2 separate regions of the Homo sapiens genome follow, and region 2 is linked to region 1. Evidence: fine-mapped expression QTL. A gene starts in region 1. The other region holds a variant in brackets. All regions are shown on one strand. Distances are between the middles of the regions. Region 1 holds the start of FCGR1A (Fc gamma receptor Ia). Region 2 holds the start of TRV-CAC1-7 (tRNA-Val (anticodon CAC) 1-7).

Region 1 (2,912 bases):
CACTCTAAAATTTATGCAGTGATGAGGATAATGATCATAGACAATCTGATAGCATCTTATCCAAAGGAAAAAATGCGCATTTCCTTTGAGTAAGCACTACTGATTCTAGGAATGTGTCCTAAGGAAAAAATAAGTCAAATGTTTAAAGGTAGTCACAAGACTATTTTGGTAGTAAGCAGTCTTTTTTACTGGTCACACAGTAAAAAATTAGAAATAACCTACATGTTCATGAAGAGAAGTTGGTGAAATAAATTATGGTACATGCATACAGTAGAAAACTTTGGAGACAAAATAGTAAAATAGTTACAGATATAGGCTTTGAATATAAATTTTAACAAGCTGAGGCTTCTCTCGTCTCTTCAGAACACCCTGAGTTCTTCCCGGCCTTTCTTCCTTGCTTTTCATTTGTGTCAGTCAGCTCTTGCTCGTATAGCAATCCTCAAATCTCAGTAGCATATAAAGGTAAGCATTTAGTTCTCACTTACAAGTTTGCAGGGCAGGTGAGGCAGCTCTGCCTCAAGCCACAATGTCTAGGACAGCTCTGTTTCGCACTGTGGCTGACTAGCTAAAAAATGTTCTTGTCTCAGCAATCACAGGAGAACAAGAGGGTGAGAGATAATGTGTGAAGCTTCCTAAGTGCTAAGTTTGAAATTAGCACCATGTCATTTCCATTCACATTTCGCTGGCCAATGAAAGTCTCATGATGAGCCACAGTCAAGAGTCAGAGACATACCCTCATGAGGCTGTGGAGAGAGTGTAGATTCAGGGAGCGGTGAGAAACTGGGGCCAGTACACCAACTTACAGCATGATTTGTCATCATTTTTCATTCTCTGCTAGTAAGATTGCCAAAGTCTCTCTGCACTCATTGAATTCATTTAGCTCTCTTTAGCTCTCTTTTTTTAGCTCTCATTTAGTTTCCATTTAGCTCTCTTTCTCTCTTACCACAATACCTAAAAATCTTTTTATGGGGTTACAACTCTGTCTCAGGAGCCACCTCAGTTTGGTGGCACAGAGCTCCCCACTTGTACTCTGAAACTCTTTTCTTGAAGATATTGCTATCCATGTGCATGAGTTATTTTTCTTCTCCATAGCATCCACATTAAACAATTAATTACCTTGGATTTAGCCAAAATAAACACTCCAAATTCATGATGTCTTTCAGGAAGAGAGTTTGTTTTCTTTTTTAACCAAAATGGGAGATTGATCCTGTCTGTGTCCCCTAGAGGAGCAGAGGCTGGTTTGTATTAGGGCAGCTCTTGTAGATGAGTAACTTTTCCCATGGCCTCATAGAGGCTGATATAGAAACTTCTGGATTCAAATGATTGTTTGGAGGCATTAGCCAGGCATTGAACCAATTATAAAGAGTGAGGTTTTGCCATATTCTAACCGTAAGAAACAGAAACGGTAGAGGGTAAAAATAGAATAGAATGTCAATACAACTTTAGCCTTTTCCCTGGATTCTGAGAGTTCATAACCTGAAAATCAGAGATTCAAACTGGGAGAGATGGGCTAACAGGTATGAGCATGGGAAAAGCATGTTTCAAGAATTTGAGATGTATTTCCCAGAAAAGCAACATGATGAAAATGGTCAGAAAAGGCAATTTCCTTCCTCTTTTCTAATTTGGCTCTGGAGCCACCAGCAGAACCTCTTCAATATCTTGCATGTTACAGATTTCACTGCTCCCACCAGCTTGGAGACAACATGTGGTTCTTGACAACTCTGCTCCTTTGGGGTAAGTTGGACTCAGAGGGGACAGTTAGAAGGGTACAGGCTGTGGCTGTTGTGAGTCAAGAGTTTTGTCTTCCTGTGGTAACTCTGGGTAGAACTCATGAGTATGAAGCAACTTGTATCTGTGCTTCCATGGTTTATTAGAGCTTATTTTATGAAAAGGATGGGAAGGGCAACCCTGAGGTAGCATTAAGCCTGGACGCACCGCAGTGAAGTTTCCTTGATAACCACCTGTAGCTTGTTCAGTTCTGTTAGTACTGGATTTTGAGAAAGAGAAATAGAAACTCAAGAGATCTGAGTTGATCCCTCAGAGTCTACATTAATTCTGTCTCCCCAATTCTCTCTTCCTCATTATTTTCCTTGGACCAACTGATATCTTTATTCTCTGATCTCTTGCAGTTCCAGTTGATGGGCAAGTGGGTGAGTGATCTCTAACTCAGCTTCTCCTTCTATGCCACTTTCCTACTTCCAAAGGATGGGTCCTATTAACCTGCAGAAGAGCATATAGGGAAAGCAGAGAAAGAAGAAAGATTTATAAATTATGTAAAATCTCCCATATTCAGAGCATGATTTTCATAAAAACTATGATTTGTAAGCTTTCTTTCTAAAGTTTTCTGAATGAGCTCTTTCCTCTGAGCGAAATGCCTGAATGTATATATAACAGCAGGAAAGGGCCAGAATTGCACAAACACTAAAGTAGTCTGCTGACACTGAAGTAGTCTGCTGGGTTTCCCAACATCCCCTAAACCAGTCCCCTTTACAAGAAAGCAGAGTGGGTTTTTTCTCCTCAGAAAGAGCCAGGCAAATACTGAAGGCTTCAAAGAGAGGAGTTTGAACCTCCGTTTCCAATGTACAAGCTGCTGAAGCCCTGCAATGTACTCTCAGAGACAGTATAGCTCAGAGGATAAGGAAAACAGCTCCGCTTGGCTTGCCCAAGTCTAAAACCCTGCTTCATTGCTCCCAACAGAAAAACCTACATCAGTAATTTAATCCTCAGGAGCCCCAGATTCCCAACACCCAGATGAGGATTTAATAACAATGAACAGAGGTCTCTGCAGCAGGAGGACACTCTTAAAGGCTGGCTTTTGTAGGTTTCCACTTGCCTATTTTTCAAATAAATCTAAATATGTATTTTTCCCTTGTGCTATCCACAAAAGCCTCACCAGTTGCTCAGAGCCCTCC
Region 2 (2,912 bases), 70 kb before region 1:
CTCATGCTCTGGCTCCTTGGCTCCAGAAGCTTCTAGAACCAGTAGGGTGATACATCCTTTAGCAACTATATTGTAAAACACATGGTGGGTAAAAGAGTGCCCTATTAAGTATTTTGGTTATGCCCCCATTAGTGTGCTTGGCTCAATATATTAATAGTAAGTAGTGGTTCGCATCCACCCTCAGTACCACCCTCTGCAGTCATCCTGTCAGTTTCCATTCCATTCTCCTATCCCTGGCTTGCTGGTTCAATACTCTTAAGTGATTTACTGCTGGTGCTCTTCTTTTTCCCTCAGAGATACCTTGTGATTTCTTTGATTCTCTCCATCTCTACAGGTTAATAAGTCTAATATTTAAAAACTCTGTAGAGGGATGTTGGGAAGCTGTGGGGAGAGCCCTTGGGCTTTTCGCCTGGGTAAAGTGCAGATTCCTGAGAATTCTGGGCCTTGGCTTCCAGCTGCACTAGTGCCGGCCACTCAGCTGTTCTCAGCAGCGTCACCTGGCGCAATGGTGCTGAAGCGCACTGCCGAGAGGCCAGAAGGCAAAGCGAGAGTCGGTGGCTATGGCCTGGAACCCATTTAGGCAAAACAGAGGGCGCGCGGGGACAAAGCAATAGAGAAGGGTGGGCAATACAGGATCTGTACACCATACATTAGCAATTGTATTTATTAAATTGTTGATTACCTAAGCCTCCGGAGAGTAGTTTGGACGCTTACCGGTTTTCTGAGGATTATTTGGGGAAGGGGTATGCATGCAAATGTGTGTACATAATTCGTGTGATTTCGGAATATTGACTCCATGAGTTCCAGATGCAGATTTGGAACGTTTTTAAAAAACATTTTGTTTTTGTTGTCTCGCAAATCAGCCAGATCTGCAACTGTATCAGAGTAAAGCGAAGCCAAGCTGGACCCTTAGGAAATGCGCTAACATGTCATCCACTTTCGGTGTCTGCCTGTGAAAATTCAGGCGATAAAGAGAATGAAGAGAACCTTAAGGAATTGCTGGAACCAAAGTTAATATTAAGCAGGCCTGCTGTGACGTCCTCTTCCTGGCAGACCAGTGGAAATTGTAGCCTGGTCGACAATCTGTATAGATTGATGAGGTCTAAAATGTAGTCACAGGTTCAACTACTTTTCTGTTTTCCAACCTCGAGTAAACTCACTAAATTTAAGGGCTAACAAAAACAAAAACAAAAAAAAAAAAAAACCTATGTTTCCGCCCGGTTTCGAACCGGGGACCTTTCGCGTGTGAGGCGAACGTGATAACCACTACACTACGGAAACCACAAGCAGTACC[T/G]GCACGGCAAAATATAACCATGAAAATCTTAGATCGGCCGTTTCTATTATAGTTTCCAAATCCGAGATCGCACCACTGCACTCCAGCCTAGACGACAGAGCGAGAGTCTCAAAAAAAAGTTGGGAGAAGAAGGTGCCATTTTCCCTAGTTGCTTTTCTTACTGTGGTGGTGACCGCATTGCCTTCACACCTGAAGTCCAAGTGCTTCCACCCTGGGGAATATGCAGACAGCTGGGTCACTGGACGCCAGGCCGCAGAGCCGGCCTCGTTCTGCTTTTGGCTCTAAATGCAGTCGGGGGACGCGACTGGACCTCACCAGAGACTGGTGGGCTGTTACCCTTACCAGCGACTGGAGGGCCAAGCTCCCAAAGAGGCCTACTTCATGATCGCCTTAAATCAGGAAATTTCATGAAATCCCACCCCTCTACCGCCCCATTCCCATATTGTATCTCCTCCCCTGCCCACTCTGAGAGGATTCGCCCCCTTTCTGTCTCGTCTGGACCCTTTGGAGTCCCACATAGACAAGACAAAAGGGGCATTGCCTTTTCCTACAGGAGCGGGAAGAGCCGTCACAGCGGAGGAAACAGAGACTCACAGCGCGCATCCCCACATACTGCGCCCTGCCGAGTTCCAGCAAACCCAACAAAGCACTCTGAAGCTTCTCTGGAAAAGGAAGAAGTGTGAGGTTTCTGATACGGCAAGAGGAGCCAAAGAGAGGGGACCCAGGCCTTCCCCTAGCTCGAGAGAACAAACCCAGAAGAAGGGCAGATCCAAAGGAAAAGCGCAAAGGCGGCCCAACCCCACGACCTGAGCGAGCCAAGGGTCGCGGGTTAAATTGCGTTTATCAGAACAGTTGTTTGCTCACTGTCCCAAAGCCCTCCTAGGGACGAAGAAAACACTGGCATGGCACCAATCGCAGAAGGGGGCAGCATTGACACCCAGGAACAGGAGTGGAAAAGCAGGAAAAGCAGGGATCATCTCTCTCCTACCCCGTATATGGCTGCAGACATAGCAGTGGTTCTTTTCTCCAGGACCCAGTGAGTGTGCACCAGGAGAGAACATTATGCACGTTATTCATGGTGGCACCACCCAGGCTGAAAGTGAGCCTGTGCTGCTTGGGCTTTCAGGAAGGACGGGCCCAACTCTCCCTCCCTATACAGAGCTGCAGTGCCCTGGCAATGGAGGACAGACCATGGAGTTGCCTGCCCTGGACTCGGGGAAGAGGCTCTGCCCTAAACCCCATTTTAGTGGTAGCTGTCAGAGTGGCATATCCACAGACTTCAGCTGCACCACAGCCAGGAACCAAAGGACAAAGTCTTTATAAAATGAAGGTTGTGAGCTCTGTGACAGGGCATGATAGGGAAGCGGATCACATTCTTGCCTACTCAGGAGGAGGAGCTAGTGCACCTCTGCCCCTTCCCCTGAGACCTCAGCACACCCCGACATGATCTCTTTCCCACCATCCTGTCAGGGCAGGTTTTTCCACTGGACACCAGCCTACGTAACAGCCCTGACTCTTAAGCACCATCTACTGGACTGCATCCTAAACTGGACCACTGAATTCAAAAACCCTGCTACCAAAGGGCTTAGTGCTAGTCCATGAGATAAGTTTCCTGAGA

The links.
Region 2: its variant is fine-mapped to the expression of FCGR1A in blood mononuclear cells (TOPMed, PIP above 0.99).

What each region holds. Positions count from the first base shown.
Region 1 is chr1:149,781,041-149,783,952 of GRCh38, forward strand. It overlaps FCGR1A (Fc gamma receptor Ia), which reads left to right and starts at 1,654. Exons shown (of 6, transcript NM_000566.4): 1 at 1,654-1,734; 2 at 2,130-2,150. The coding sequence starts at 1,704. LOC124904411 reads right to left here. Exons shown (of 2, transcript XM_047438183.1): 2 at 1,850-2,220. It also overlaps a transcript of H2BC18 not described here.
Region 2 is chr1:149,711,344-149,714,255 of GRCh38, forward strand. TRV-CAC1-7 (tRNA-Val (anticodon CAC) 1-7) reads right to left here and starts at 1,281; the gene lies at 1,209-1,281. The variant T/G (reference allele first, on the strand shown) is at 1,295.